Regions from separate parts of the Homo sapiens genome. Here regions 1 and 3 are each linked to region 2. Evidence: fine-mapped expression QTL. A gene starts in region 2. Each other region holds a variant in brackets. All regions are shown on one strand. Distances are between the middles of the regions.

Evidence for each region. PIP is the estimated chance that this variant, and not a neighbour inherited with it, causes the effect.
Region 1: its variant is fine-mapped to the expression of SNX19 in whole blood (INTERVAL, PIP above 0.99).
Region 3: its variant is fine-mapped to the expression of SNX19 in whole blood (INTERVAL, PIP above 0.99).

What each region holds. Positions count from the first base shown.
Region 1 is chr11:130,893,239-130,898,684 of GRCh38, reverse strand. The region is part of intron 8 of SNX19 (sorting nexin 19); the gene reads left to right. Among named protein-coding and RNA genes, the nearest start is that of SNX19, 21 kb to the left of the region's middle. The variant G/A (reference allele first, on the strand shown) is at 3,182.
Region 2 is chr11:130,914,057-130,919,502 of GRCh38, reverse strand. SNX19 (sorting nexin 19) reads left to right here and starts at 3,024. Exons shown (of 11, transcript NM_014758.3): 1 at 3,024-5,237. The coding sequence starts at 3,564. RefSeq lists a silencer at 2,832-3,111 and an enhancer at 3,232-3,281.
Region 3 is chr11:130,874,530-130,879,975 of GRCh38, reverse strand. It overlaps SNX19 (sorting nexin 19), which reads left to right. Exons shown (of 11, transcript NM_014758.3): 10 at 265-352; 11 at 1,422-5,446. The coding sequence ends at 1,554. Among named protein-coding and RNA genes, the nearest start is that of LINC02551, 15 kb to the right of the region's middle. The variant G/A (reference allele first, on the strand shown) is at 3,111.

The DNA of each region.
Region 1 (5,446 bases), 21 kb after region 2:
TGGTAAGCCAATATGCTGGAAACTTGACATCTCCAGAGCTGCAGCACCTCTCCACTGTACCCCCTGCATCTCCCACAAGAGGCATGATATGAGGTCCCGTTGCCTCCCATCCCCATGACTGCTGCCTAGGAGGCTACATGTTTGTCCTCCCTGAAACCACGGGTAGCTGAGCCATATGCTTTTGCAGGGTACTTGGGTTCTCTTCCTTTAAGTTCCGTGCTTAAAAGAGCAGGATAGTTGGTGTTGGTGCCACACGTGGTACTGCCACTTCTCTAGTTATTTAGAACTCACTGCAGTTTGACCATCAGGGATGCTGTAGTCACCAGATTTGAGTGCATCTCCTCCTTAAAATGTCCTCATGTTCCAACCTCCAGTATTATTATCCCCAAGCAGGCAAGTTTATTCCTCTGCTTCCAACTTTGTATACCCATCTTGCAACTTTAAAAGACCTGTGTACATTACTGCCTTGGACGCCATAGACTTCTGTCAAATTATAAGCACACTCTCTATCCTGCAAAGGAAAAAAAAAAAACAGAGTAAGTTCGACCTCATAACCCCTCCTTCTAAGCCAAAGTTGGAAGAGCTCTGATCTGAGCCAGGCTTATAAATCTCCGTTGATTGTTGATGATGTGGAGAGAAGTGGGAGGGGAGCTGAAGAGAAGTTAGATGCCCAAAAAAGGCATTGTTAAGTCAAAGGGAAGTCTTGCATGCATGTGCGCCTAACCTCATGTGTCAGCTTCTGTGCTGGGAACATCCAATTATGTAACAAGAAGCACTCCTTATTTGGAATGAGAGACAAAGGGAGGGGAAGGGGAGAGCGGGTAGCACTCTGAGCCAAGGAGCAAATCCGGCTTGTGCAAACTCTGCTCATGCCCGAAAACAGAAGAAACTTGAAAATATCTCTGCAAACATCAGAATCAGATTTAGCAAACTGGGCAAGTACTCAGAGTTAGACTGGGTTGGAGGGAAAGAGGAGAGATACACTGTGCTGCATTGATGGTAGGGGGTTTGGGGCAGGAAGATCCAGCCAAGGTAAGGGGTAGGATTGGTGTGGAGTCCTGATGGAAAGTGAAGGAATGAGAAGCTGGACCGGCGCCCTGCCTGGACACCCAGAGCAATGCCACGATAAAAATAGGAACCATGCCAGCAGCAGAATGCGTGAATGCCACGTCCGCGGCGCTGCCCTCCCCATGGCCCCAACGATGGCATCAGACCTGTGTCAAAAGGGCAGCAGACACATTCCTGGCATCTGCGTCAGGATTTCTCAGTTAAAAAGGGAGTGTGTGTGTGTGTGTCTGTGTGTGTGTGTGTAAGATAGAGACAGAGTGTGTGTGTGTGAGTGTTGGGGGCATGTGGGAATGGAATGGCTTGGCAGAAAGCCAGGGGGAAAGGTTCTGGCAGAGGGGAGCGTGAAGTGTGTAAAGTTAGGAAGTATCCAGAGAGGAAGAAGAAAAGAAAGGGTGTGCAGGTTTAAGGAGTCCAACAAGCAGGGCACCCAGGAGAAACTTGATGGCAAGCTCTAGACCTTACACCAGACCTTGGAATCACTTTCTTAGAGAAGATGTCTCTCTCTAAACCATCTCCTAGGAAAGGTCAGGAGAGCTGCGGCAGAGTCTGGGAGCACTGGAGAGTGCTGTGCTGCAAGGCGCAACGTCCACCTCCCCTAAGGACAGTTGGGAAAGGTTGACCATGAACCCTCTTGCTTCCACTGTTCTCTTAGAACGCTCCAGAATCAAGGCGCTTTCTGTGGAACTCTACTTCAAGGGCCTCTTTCTTGGTGGGCATGTCTAACTAGCAGGTGGATAACAGTTCTTTGTGACATTGGTTATTTCTTAAGAGAACCTCCAGGTCTGCCACCAAAAGTGCACGAGTAATTGCAATGGGAAAGGAACTGACGCTTATTACAATATTAATACCAGGAAAGCAGCTATGTACTGTTTATATTAATGTTCAATTCTATGAGATAGACATGTAGTTCTACATTTCATAAGTGAAGAAAATTACATTCAGATAAAATAACGTTCCCAAAATCATAAAAGTCGTAACAACCACACCTTAAGATTCCACTTAAGTCATCCTGGCCTCAGAGCTCATGTGTTTCCCACTGCTCTGCCATGCTTCCCCTCCATGCAAGCTTTCCCACAAAGCAGTGGCCACTAGAACTGGGTTCACCTGAAAGTTCCCTTGCCGTATTCCCATCTAGCCTCTCTTGCTTTCCATCCAGCTGGTCTCAGGGACACACGCATCTGATGGTAGCATATAAATTATTTTTGTCTGCATATTCTGATTTTATTTTTAAAGCACTTCTGAGCCAGAGATTGTCTCTTAGCTATCTCTATTTATATGCTATTCACAATCAGGAAAAGATTATCAACGTTAAGACTCAGAGTTTCTCAGGAAGCATAGATTACAGTTTTTTCCTTTGCTGTGTAACTTTTTCTTCCAGTTCAGCTCTGATGCCTGGCTATGTCTTATACCCCATCTCTTCCTATGCACAGCTTTTCTAGAAATACGCATACTTTTGCAAGACCCCCACATACAAAATTAACTCAAGCTCAGTCTTCAGAATTCTCGCTTATTTTCTGGCTCTCCAGTCATTGGCTTGGGCTGTTTTTAGAGGTGCTGAAATTAATTTTTCTCATTGATGGCTTTGCTCAGATTGTACTGTGGCTCCCTGGGAAGGAGTACTGCTTGTCCCAGGCCTCTTCCATTAGGCCATGCCAAAGGGAAGCTCTTGACTTCTATAGACTGGGCCAGGATGGGCCCTAGCAGTTTCCCCTGTCATATGAGTGGTCTGCCTGTCATATTTCTTGGGTATCACTTATTCTACACCCATCTTAGGATGAAGACATCATGGCTTTCCTGTCACATAGTGACAGTCTCTACTGGAATATATCTTTGAGATTGTAGCAGGTGGATGGCAGCTGACAGCCGTGTGCCTGAGCATTGCATTTGCATTTCTGTGTGTGTGTGCTCTTGAAGTCTCATATACTCAAATAGAGGTACAAAATTGCTCATTGTAAAAGTTAACAAAAAACAGAATATCATGAGGTATTTAAACCTCAGAGCCTTTTTTTCCAAGTCAGGTTCTTGGCATCTCTTGCCCATCTGTGACTGCAAACAGGAACCTAAGATTTTGACATTTTGATGACAGCTTTAGAATGTATGTCAGCATCCTGAG[G/A]GCAGGGACTGCGTCTTATTTACCATTATATCTTCAACACCCAGCCCCATGCATAGAAGGCACCTAGTAAATTTGTGTCAAATAAATGAACACAGAAGATCACACGTCATTCTACTGGAGGCAGTCCCTCTGCTTATCACTATTAAGAATCTTAGGGTTTCCTCAACAGTGCTGGGGGACCAGAAGCAAAATGGAAACTGAGTCTTTCATTCCCTCCACACAGGGCATACCCAGATCTTCAGTTAATTGGGGAATTCTGATTCCCAGAGCCATGGTACGGCCTAAGCAAAGAGGTTTGGGGGCCCTTCAGGCCATCTCCCATTCTAATGGCTCTCTCCTTTCCAAAGAGTGCAGCGCCCCTCCACAACCTGGGCCTCCCAGTATGAAGCCCCACCGAGCCTGCCCTCTCTGGAAGCATCTCCTGCTGTTGTACTTTCTCCACCTCTTTCCTTCCACATGGAAAGCAAGAACTTGGACTTTGAAGTCAGATCTGAAATCAGATCTTGCTTTGAGGCTATGTGACTTAGAACAAACCACTTAACTTCCTTTGTCTGTTACTGTCGAAATAGAAATCATAGCCTAGTGCATGAAGTTCTTTGGGGGGATAAGAGATAATTTAGAGGTAAATGTTAGAGAGGCTTTATAGAGGAAGGTATAACAGCTAGATCTTGTGAGATAGGTGTCATTTAGACTGGTTTAGGCTAAATAATATTCTAGACACTAAGACATTTTTAAAACAGGAGGAGGGGCATTCTACTTTCAAATAAAAAGCAACCTGGAATATTTTTAGCCAGCTTCTTTCTGAATGTGTGTTGCTTTTATTGTTTCAAATAGGTGACAAAAAGCCTACCAAACTGCTGCTGCATGGCGTGGGCACAGGAATTCTCTCTATGGGCACCAGGTGGCGCTGCAGGTTAAACAATACCATTCACTGTCCTTTGAGGAAGACCTGTTTGTTTTGCAGTTATAGGTCCCCTGCCGTGATGTTGATACAGTATATTGAAGCCATTCCCTGGCTTGCTCTACGGTTTAGAGGCCACTTATCTGCCTACTCCTTAGTGCCAGTGACTTTTAGATAAGCCCTGTTTCTTTGATCTTTCACCCTTCTTCCTTCTGCTCTAATGCGTCTTCAGCATATGCTTGCTTCTCTGAGTGGTGTGGATGACCAGAAGTTGCCCCTTTGAGTGGATCCCACCCGTTAAAAATTCAGTGCTGGAGCTGATTCATTCAGAACAGAGTGAGCAGAACAGAGTCTGTGGTGATGAGACCAGCTAGACATCTGAATTGCAAGAATTTTGTTAATATTCTGTATAAACTACTTGGACCTATATTCAGGGTCTCCTGTGATCCTAAAATCTTATACATTATGTATTCACTAAGATGGAGATTGTCAGTGCTGAATAGCCCCGATGTTAGGAATCTTATCAACCTGTTACATAATCAAGGACATTCCCTATTGCTTTCGGCCATGGATGGAGACCGTTTGGCTCTCCCCCATTAACTTGGTTTTGGAGAAGCAACCATATGTTATTGCTTACTTTTGATCTTTACCTCTGTCCTTGCAGGCTTCTCCAAGTGCCCTTTGGAGAAGTAGAGCTATTTGGTACTGGAGCAGGGAGGGAGTTGGGTAAATTGGTGGGAAATATACTTTAGCTCTAATATAATGCTGGCCCCGAAAGATTTCTCGGAGAGGATTCAGCCTTCCTGGGAGGGAGGCTGGTGTGCAAATGCAGCATCAAGGTAAGTTCCTCAACACCTGCCTCCTCTCTCCCCCAGGTTTCCTTTTTGTTGTTTTTCCAGTTTTATTTATTACTCCTCTGTGTTTTCTACCCATAGTCAGTGCTCCCAAAGTTCCTATTCTGTGGAGATTCTGGAGTTGCCACTTCGGTGTCCCTACGTCCTTCATAACGGGATAGATGGCCTTCTACTTGGAAAGGTTTTACATTTCAGCCTGTAGACAGGGAACTGGAAATACTTTTGGGTAGCTCTTCTACACCAAGGTGATGGTGTTAATGATAGTCACTTTTCCTTCTCCTCTACACCCCTCTCAGTGTTTTTTCTCTTTGTTTATCTTGGGCATCTGCTTCTCATATATGTATTCTTTATTCTCCTCAAGGCTGGTCTTTTCCAGCCTCCTGTAGCCATTTTCACAGCATAATTTGAAGTCCTCCCATGTCTGCTGATTTAAATAAATCCCTAATAATTTTCTTCCAAATCATGGCTGAGCACACTCTAAATCTGTTATCCGTAATATTTGCAGAAATT
Region 2 (5,446 bases):
CAATACTAAACACCTCCAGAGAAAATAACTCAACCATATGTATTGGTGCCACTACAAAAAGGTCCCTCAGCCCCACCTTCTCTCTTTTTTTTTTTTTTTAGACGGAGTCTCGCACTGTTGCCCGGGCTACTGGAGTGCAATGGCACAATCTCGGATCACTGCAATCTCCACCTCCTGGATTCACGCGATTCTCCTGCCTCAGCCCTCCGAGTAGCTGGGATTACAGGAGCACACCATCACACCTGGCTAATTTTTTTGTATTTTTAGTAAAGACGGGGTTTCACTATGTTAGCCATACTGGTCTTGAACTCCTGATCTCGTGATCTGCCTGCCTCAGCTTCCCAAAGTGCTAGGATTACAGGCATGAGCCACTGCGCCCAGCCCCCACTTCATCTTTTTACCTGACCTTCGATAGCTCCCTTTCTATATCCCACAGCAATAATTCCATACCATCGCCTCTTCTCACTCACTTGCCCCATCACTGAGCTTCTCTTTAGGAAGCCTCCTGGTCTTCTATTTTGAGAGAAAATTCAAGTGGGGTGCGGGCTGGCTCTGGCAGGGCCTATGTCACGGGCCCCCCTGCTCTCATGGTCTCTGCCTGTTTCTTATGAGCAGGCCTCTGCCTGAAAGACCTTCCTTCTGTTTGCCCCTTGCTCTCGCTACCCAACATTTCCTAAAATACACTCAATTCTTTTTCATTTCCCAACTTAAGGGAAAACTGTCTATGAGCCACCCCCCTCCACAGCTGACCACCCGCTTTGTGTTTCGATTTTATTGTATGCACTTCTATTACAACACATCAGAACACATCACATTACACACGTGATCATGTTTCATTACGTTTATATATTTATGTGTCTCTCCTTTAACTAGACTGAGAGTCCCTTGAGGAGAATTATTGTATCTTATTTGTCTTGTTTTCTCCAACACTCTAGCACTATGCCTTTAATGTTTTGAGAAATAGGGAAAAGGAAAGAAGGAAGGACGTCTCCAGATGGTGAGTGGTGTGGCCAAGTCTCCCCACCCCACATACACACACCAGGGCACATCAGTCCTGACTCTCACCTCCTCCCAGTGATTAATCTGTTTGGAGACCAGGGTCTGCCCAGACCCCCAGGCAGGAGCTCACACCCGTCCAAATGACAAGTGCACGGGCATGTCCATCAAACCCGCTTCAGAATCAGGAAGGCACTCTTGGCTACCTTGATGCTCCAGACCATCTGGTCAGGTGGCATAGCGCCCACTTGCAAGGTCACTTCCTTACTGCCCTGAACACTCCAGATTATGCTGCCAAGTAAACTTTCTCTTTGAACTGCCACAGGAAGTCTTCAGCACCGTCGGTAGTCCCTTCATCATTCACATTTCTGTTTTAGCTCCCAACTAGGTGGCAGGGACTTTTCTCCAGAGCATTGTTGCCATTTTCTAAGTGCTCCTGAGGACATTAGAATGGTCTGGGAAGGTAGAGGGGCAGAGCCCACTTCTCGGGTTCCTTTTCTGCGGGAAGGCAGGCAGCAGTGAAAAGGTATGGACCGTGAAACCGTGGATTCACATTCTGCCATCTCACGGGAGTGCCCAGTCTGCTTAGTGGACACTGATCCTAAATCAAACCATTTGCTTTAGAAGTGATGAATCGTAAACTACGGGTCACATCTAAATGATGGCTTCTTTCGTATTCAAAGGAAGTCTCTGCCCCAACAGCAGCAATGGACGAGACAGGAAGCTGCAACGCACTTCTTGTTGGCAGAGTTTTGGGTTGGGATTTGTTTGAAGATTCCTTTAAACATCTAGGGAGTAGTCCATGATGATGAAAGACTGCTCACAGCACAGAGAAGGTGGACGAAGGGCAACCATGAGCAGCTCTGTGCAAACGATGCGAATCCTATGCCTAAATGGAAAGGAGACCCACCCTGCGGGCACAGCTCCTAGGGCCCAAGGTGGACATGGAAGCTGGCTTCACGCAAAACTGACACTAACACTTTTGACACCTGGTCAGTGCTTCCGGTATTTTGTCTTCCTATAGGTTCCTGTGTAGACAAGTGAAGTCTAATTTGCTAAAACCAAAAACAATCCAACATAGAGCATATTCCAAAGCAAATATATTACAGGATTATCTGAAAGGACACCTCTATCTCTGCTTTCCTTTTCTATGTTTTTGGGGAGGATAAGGCGAGAAGAGATAGAGGGAAATAGAAACCCTCATCCTTGAAGACTCAGCAGAAAGGCACCTTTTCTGTGAGCTTCTCCTTAACCATTGCAACCCACAGTGATCTCTCCTTCCCCTGAATTCCTATAAGATTTTGTATTTTACTATATCGCACGCTGACTGGCATTACTAGATAGCCAATCGCGTTCAAAGCGCTGGCATCCCCAGTTAGCAGGAGGTCCTGGAGGACAAGGTCTGCTTCTATTCGTCCACGCTGCCTCTCACATTGAAGACAGCAGATGCTCAAAATATTTGATTGTTTGTGTAATGCCACCAGCAAATAACCCTCAATCACAAATTTGATTTTGTGATACAGTATATGAAATGTACAACATAAATCTATCTCTGTATCGTTTCATGCCTTATATTCTGCAATTCCTGACAACAAATGAGGGTCTTTGTGCTGGGGACGCGGGGTACCGGCTCTAGGGGAAACCGGATAAATGTTAAGACACATCAGGCCAATGAAACTTCGCCTCCATGAAATTAAAATAAACCGGATTATTGACAGCGTGCCTAAGCAGTAAAGGACAGGCTTCATTTAATAACCAGAACTAGGACGCGTTTTAAAGCGCCTGGAAGTCTGGGTCTTAGCGGTGATTGCTGCGGCGGCTGTTTCGTGGCACTTCGGAAATCTGCGCCAGCTCTTGGCGAGCACGCGCCCCGTGCGCGCTCAGGCTCACGCTCAGGCTCAGAGACTACCTCGCGCAGGGCCGTCAGGGCGGCTCCTCGCCAGCAGAGGGCGCCGGGCAGCGCCGCTCCTCGGGGCGCGCGCGGACGCTCTCCCAGCATGCCTCGCTCCCGTCGACGTCGACCCGGAAGCTGTCGCCGGCGGCCGGCCGGCGGTCAGCCTTCACACAGGCCCGGCTGCGGAGCGCAGTCGCCCAGGTTTACGGCGGCAGAGGGCCGAGGCTCCCGGAGAGGACCGCGATGAGTCCACTTCAGGTCGGGGCTGAGTGTGGGCGCGCGGTTCCCGGCGGCGTGTGACCCAGTCTTCGCCGGCCGCTGCCCGCTGCGTGTGTAAGTGTCCGTGGGCCCCAGGGCCTTGCAGCGCCCGCCCCGAGGCCCCGAAGAGGCCTTCCGCCTGGGGCAGTGTGAAGGCCACAGAGTTTTCCTCCAAAGCCACACCTCAGCTGGAAGGGGCGAGTTGGAGGGCTCTGTTAGTGGTAGCCATGGGGAGACGCGGAGCTGCAGCTGTCGCTTTGCAGTGCCTGTAGGACTTTGAGGGCCTGGAGCCCCGGTTCCCTGAACAGCACCCAGATCGCCCCATATCTGAGACACAGTTCATGCCCCCCTTCCCTAACTCTGAAGTAAAATCTTGAGGGCTGTCATCTGGGGAAGCCACCTTGTCCGTTCAGCCATGAAGACAGAAACAGTGCCACCGTTCCAGGAAACTCCAGCTGGATCGAGCTGTCACCTCAATAACCTGTTGAGTAGCCGGAAGCTGATGGCTGTGGGGGTCTTGCTTGGCTGGCTCCTGGTCATACACCTTCTGGTCAACGTGTGGCTGCTGTGCCTTCTGTCGGCATTGCTAGTGGTGCTGGGAGGATGGCTGGGCTCCAGCCTCGCTGGAGTGGCTTCAGGTCGACTGCATCTGGAACGCTTCATCCCGTTGGCCACCTGTCCTCCATGCCCTGAGGCAGAAAGGCAGCTGGAACGGGAGATCAACCGCACCATCCAGATGATTATTCGAGATTTTGTGTTATCTTGGTACCGTTCCGTGAGCCAGGAGCCAGCCTTTGAGGAAGAAATGGAGGCAGCCATGAAAGGGTTGGTCCAGGAGCTTCGGAGAAGGATGAGCGTGATGGACAGTCATGCTGTTGCCCAGAGTGTTCTGACTCTCTGCGGTTGTCACCTGCAGAGCTACATTCAGGCAAAGGAGGCCACTGCAGGGAAGAATGGTCCAGTTGAGCCTTCCCACCTCTGGGAGGCTTACTGCCGGGCGACTGCCCCACATCCTGCTGTGCACAGCCCCAGTGCTGAAGTCACCTATACGCGTGGCGTTGTGAATTTGTTGCTTCAAGGGCTGGTGCCCAAGCCCCACTTGGAGACTCGTACCGGACGCCATGTAGTGGTCGAACTCATCACATGCAATGTAATCTTACCACTGATCAGCAGGCTGTCAGATCCTGACTGGATCCACCTTGTACTCGTGGGTATCTTTTCCAAGGCCAGAGATCCAGCACCCTGCCCAGCCAGTGCCCCCGAACAGCCCTCAGTGCCGACATCTCTGCCACTGATTGCTGAGGTAGAGCAGCTTCCAGAAGGGAGAGCTTCTCCAGTAGCAGCCCCAGTATTCCTAAGTTACAGTGAGCCAGAGGGTTCTGCAGGCCCCTCTCCAGAGGTTGAAGAAGGCCACGAAGCTGTAGAGGGAGATTTGGGTGGGATGTGTGAAGAAAGAAAAGTAGGAAACAACTCATCTCATTTCCTACAGCCAAATGTTCGAGGTCCCCTGTTCTTATGTGAAGACTCAGAGCTGGAGTCTCCGCTGTCTGAACTGGGCAAAGAAACCATCATGCTCATGACTCCAGGCAGCTTTCTCTCTGACAGGATTCAGGATGCCCTGTGTGCCCTAGAGAGTTCCCAGGCTCTGGAACCCAAAGATGGTGAGGCATCTGAAGGAGCAGAGGCTGAGGAGGGTCCAGGGACAGAAACAGAGACAGGCCTGCCGGTCTCCACACTGAATTCCTGCCCAGAGATCCATATTGACACAGCAGACAAGGAGATAGAACAAGGAGATGTTACCGCCTCTGTTACAGCTTTGCTGGAGGGGCCAGAAAAGACCTGCCCCTCACGGCCGTCATGCTTAGAGAAGGATCTCACCAATGATGTGAGCTCCCTTGATCCTACTCTGCCACCAGTTCTGCTTTCCTCCTCTCCACCTGGTCCTCTCAGCTCAGCCACCTTCAGCTTTGAGCCCCTAAGCAGTCCCGATGGTCCAGTTATCATCCAGAACCTTCGTATCACTGGCACCATTACAGCCCGAGAGCACAGTGGCACTGGATTCCACCCATACACACTCTATACTGTGAAGGTAACAGGATTAAAGCTGTGGGTGCTCACCCGGGCTAGGAGTGGGTTTGGAAAGCAGTCATGAAGCAAATGTTCTTGGGGGAGAGATGCTGTTAGTTTGAAGTGGTTCTTTCAATAGGCATCTATCTCTGTGAATGGTCTGAAGCTAATATGTAAGGCAGAGTAGCGTTTATCCTGTACTCACACAAGCAATCCTGGAACCTCAGGGCT
Region 3 (5,446 bases), 40 kb after region 2:
TACATTGGAAGGAGTACCTGCATTTGAGTGACAGGTTACAAAATAATTTTTGAAGCCCATTCTTATGTAGACACCTAACTTGAGAAACATATTTTTCTCAGGTTTTTCCTGTTTTGTGAGGATTTTAGTTTGGCTGTATGGTTTAGAGGTAGGCCTGAAATACCTAACCTATGTAAAAACGGCAGAGATCCTGGGGAGAGACTGTCCTTAGAATCTAAAACTTCAGTGATAACACGCAAATTCCATCTGTTTTTTCCTCCTCAGATCTCGTAGTAGAAATTCTTGGGGTGAACAAATGCCGGCTGAGCTGGGGTCTAGTCCTGGAGTCACTACAACAACCCCTCATCAACAGGTAAGTGGGAAAATGTTATTCCAACATCAGCATAGTTACAGCCACCTCTGGTCTCAGAGGTATCCAAGGTTTCTGAGTGAAAAGCCCACATTCCAAAGAATAGGATTGTAGTCTTTACTTGCTCTGGGCACTGACTACAGAGTTTGACGTCCAGATCCACACACTCTAAGTAAAATCCACACCATCAGGCTTCTGAGCAGGTCGTCATGTGCTAGGAAATCACTCTTGGACCACCCACCATTTGTGTTTGGAAGAACTCTATGCAGGCCCCCACATGAGCTGCTGAAAATGACCTCTTATCCTCCAGGCTTGTTCAGCATACTTGCTCAGTGCTCTTTCCAACATCTGCCAGCCCCTGTGAATGCTCCAAGAGCGTACCCTGGCCTGTGTATCACAGACCATGTAAAGATGTTCACCATGAGCCCTGGCCTTATAGCAAAGCTGTGATTCATGTCAAGACCAGGAGTTGTCTTTGCTTCATATCAGGTAGACAAGATAGTAAGGTTGGAATTTCATAAAGGGACCAGAAATGCTGGGTGAAGAGTCCTAGAATAATCCAGAAGAGGTAGATTCCATCCCTTGGGCTGTTACTCTTCTGGAAGTATTGAGTAACCTTGCACTCAAACCCTACCCCAAAGTAGACTGTGTTCGTTAACTTCCTCAAGGATCCTGGCTTTACCTCACTGCCTGTAAGGCAGCCTATAAATTTAAGGTAATTAATTATGAGAAACAGCAGTAGTCAGGAGCTCTGAAAGTGTCTAGTAACCTGACATCTCAAGGATTTGTTATCACAGTTCTTCAGAGCAGTGCTAATGTAACTATGTAAAGAGAAATGGAATTTTATAAAACTTAGTCTTATATAAAACTAGTCTTATATAAAAACTGTTCTTGCCTTTATTAGGGTCAGAGGCTTTATTAGTTCAAAAAACATTAATTTCATGGCAGAGGTTTCATCAAGCTATTGAAGTTTAGGGTGTCGGTGATGGGGGAGGAGAAAATAAATGTCATAAACAGGATCTTGTGTTTCCTGATTGAGCCAGACCCTAAGTTTTTTGTCCATTCGTTTCAGGCATTTGATTTACTGCCTTGGGGACATCATCCTGGAATTCTTGGATCTCAGTGCCTCTGTTGAGGAGTCTGCTGCTACCACCTCTGCCTCAGATACCCCAGGCAACTCTAAGAGGATGGGTGTCTCCTCTTAGCTGGTTATTCACGCCTTCTTCCCAGGTCAGGGAAGTAGAGTTACTCGGCCACCAGAGACCAGTCAGGAAGCCCGTGCCCTCTTCAAGTAGGCTACAGCTAAGAAGGCCTAGGTTCTCGGTGGCTCACTTCTCTCCCACTTCTGCTCCATTTGTAGCAGGTGACAGGGGTCTGTGTGTCCCAGTTGTATGCACGTTTATTTCCCTGTTCCTTTTGTGATGTTGGGATTGTTGCTGGTGAGTAGATCCTGTTTCCTTTGGGAAAAGAAGCTGTGAGGTAGAGGAATGAACCCCTTTTGCTTCTCCTTTTGCCATCCTCCCTGAGATTGTTTGCCAGAATCCTGGCCCTGTGCACACATGTGCTTAATCCACCAGCACACAAGCTCTAGATAGAACAGGAAAAAAACTGTGGCCAGATTTCCTTGGAGGAGAAAACAACCTTCTCAGCTCTCTGTTCCTACCCGGAAACTAAAAATTCATTCAGGGCCATTCTCAAAAACCAGACTCCTGGGTCTAATCTAGTTTCCCAACAGTTCCAGAAGAAGAAGGAGGGAAGAAAATTTTTCAAGGAACTTCTTGCTCATGTGTTGCTGTTTCCCAACACATCAGCCTTATGGAAGATGTCATGAGGCTGCTTGCCTGGGAGGCTACACTTTCCTTTCCAGAAGACTTCAAAGCTGACTGCCAAAGCTTCTGGTAAATCCACCCCACCCTTCACACCCTTTCCTGAAAGGCATTTATACCACCCATTTTATTTATTGGCTTTGCTCCCAACCCCCTGCCCTAGAGCAATTGAGTTTTTGAATTTTTGACCCTCTCTCTGTCTTCAGCAAAACTGCATGACAAGCTGCATATTCAGCCTCAGTTTTTCCAAGGAGAATGGAAAGCACTTGCCTCCTGTCTTAAGAATGCACAAAGAGTAGGACTAGCAAGGCTGGGGGATGAAATCTCCCTTCCTAAGTCTTTGACAGAGAACTTTTATTATTCTGAACAGATAAGATTAGCAAACTTACAAGGAATAGCTTCTTATTTCCCATTCCTTACGGTTATAATCAGTCCTTTAACAACACCAGCATGAAGGCAAAGGTGTTTTGTCAGACTGCAACATCTATTAGAAAGGCAAGGCAACTGGGAATTGCTGGAGAAGGATAAATCAGGAGGAATTGCTGGTAGAAAAGGCTGCAGACAGTCACAGGGAAGTGCTGTATATTAAATGCATGTGAATAGCTGGCAAAAAGATGTCAAGGATGTCACTGGGAGCCCTTTGGCTTCACACTCGCCTGTTAGCGCCTTGCTTTCGCTGAATTACCAGAGCCTACCACTCGGAGGAAGGTCTTGGAGTTAGACTGATGAGAAGGCAATGGGGTGTCAAAAACAAGTGTCAAAGTTCTCTTAGATTCTGAAGTCGGTGATGAGCACACAATTAAAGTGGTTTGTGGAAGAAAGTTGTAAAATCTTTTTACTTTTTTGCCCCTCTGGAGGCTTTTAACCCTAAATTGTGTCTGATGTATTCGGGAGGCTTAGGTGTGCAATTCTTGCCCAAAGGCAAGGAGATGAAT[G/A]AGATGTCTCATGGCCTCTTCTAGCCTTAAAAGTTGACCATTACAGTGACTTTATGGCTCCAAAGTTCTTGAAGCATCTCCAGCCCTAGACTTTGACAAGAAAAGGTAGCTCAGCATCTCTACTTTCCGTGAGTACCTGCAGGAGTCCAGCCAATGTATTAGAGCTGATCATTAAGCTCCTTCAGTGAGGGCTAAGATCCTATTCTCGATGAGCATAGGGGGACAGCCTTGTTTTATGCCACTTTTCTCTCCCCATACCTACCTTCCCCTCATGTGTACTTAGCCACCTGTGTTGCTTTGAATCTGCTGCCAGTTCTGGCTCAAATGTGGCACAAAATCAGTACATCAGACACACCATGAAATCCCTGTGGCTATAAATTCTAAGGAATCTTTTGACACTTCCAGCCCAAAGAACTTATTTTTATTTCGTATTATATAAGAGTCCCCACCTCTACTCCACGTACCCCAAAAAGATAAGCTGTCCTCAGATCCTCCTTCTACCCAGGAGGGAAATAATGGATATTGCCAAGGGAACAATCAGAACTCATCTGGCTTTGAAAACGACCTGCCAAGTTTGGCTAGCAGGTTCAGACAACAAGAGAGTAACAATTGGTAGAGAGCCACAGGTAGAAAAGATACTCCCAGCTGACAGGGTGATAAAAGGCAGGGAAGAATTGGGCCTGTGCTGATCCAGGAAGGTTTTATTGTTTGCTTGTTTTTTGTATTTACTCGTGACTAAATTTTATTCATTTAAGTCAGAATTTTGATATTTGAAATAAGACTACTTTCCCTTTTCTTACTATCTATAAAAAAGACGAGGCAGGGATGCTGTGTTCTTTCTGTCAAATTCTAAATGTGATCTTTGCCATTGCTTATTTGAATTCAAGAAAGCTATACTTTTTCATCACATATAACTCACAGTTTCATTTTTGCATTGTTGGATTAGACTTAATAAAACCTAAATGGAAAATAAATTCCTAAATCTGAGCCTAGGAGCATGTATAAATTTTATTTTTATTATTATTATACATTAAGTTCTAGGGAACATGTGCACAACATGCAGGTTTGTTGCATATGTATACATGTGCCGTGTTGGTGTGCTGCACCCGTTAACTCGTCATTTACATTAGGTATATCTCCTGATGCTATCCCTTCCCCCTCCCCCGACCTCACAACAGGCCCCAGTGTGTGATGTTCACCTTCCTGTGTCCAAGTGTTCTCATTGTTCAATTCCCACCTATGAGTGAGAGCATGTATAAATTTTAAAATCAATACAAGCTACTCCAATTTCCATTTTGGAAATTTCCAGTTTACAAGGTGATTTTCTTATTGTTGTAAAGAAACACATAATGTGAGATCTACCCTCTTAAGTGTACAGTACATTATTTATTTATTTTGAGACGGTACATTATTAACTAGAAGCAGCACAGTGCTTTGTAGCAGACTGCTACAAGTTTTTCATCTTGCATAACCAAAAGTTTATACCCATTGAACAGCCACTCCTCGTTTCCCCTCCCACCAGCCTCTGGCAATCACTGTTCTACTTTCTGCTTCTGTGAGTTTGACTACTTTGAACGCCTCATATAAGTGGAATCATGCAGTGTTTGTCCTTTGACTGGCTTATTTCACTTAGCATAATGTCCTCCAGGTTCATCCACGTTACAGCATGTGACAGAATTTTCTTTTTAAGGCTGAAAACATTCCATTGTATGGCTATGCCACATTTTCTTTGTTCATTCATTGAGGGACATTTAGGTTGGCTCCGCGCCTTGATTGTTGAAAACAATGCTGCAGTGAACATGGGAGTGTGACTGTTTCTTCGAGGCCCTGCTTTTAATTATTTTAGATAAATACCCAGAAGTAGGATTGCTGGATCATATATTGTTCTGTTTTTAATTCTTTGAAGACCTTCATACTGTTTTCCATAGTGACTAGACCATTTTACATTCCCACCAACAATGTACAAGGGTTCCAGTTTCTCCACATCCTCTCCAACACTTGTAATGTTTTGTTTTTTCATAATGGCATCTTAAAAGGTATTAGGTGATATTACTATCTCATGGTTTTGATTTGCATAGCCTAGAACATTTTTGAGTCTTCCTGTGTCCTACCCAGGTTATTCATTTCCAGCTACTGCTCTTCCTTTGCTCATAGCACACAACACCAGTTGTTAGGTCCTGGAGGAAGTAAAAATATGTGTAACTATGGTCCCTGGCTATATGAATCAGGATGCTCTGGACAAGAATTAAATTATGAGGAAAATTTATTTTATTTCATAACATTAGTACGTGAGTAGGTAAGCCCAGGAGTTTGGTGATTCAGCAACTCTGAGACCT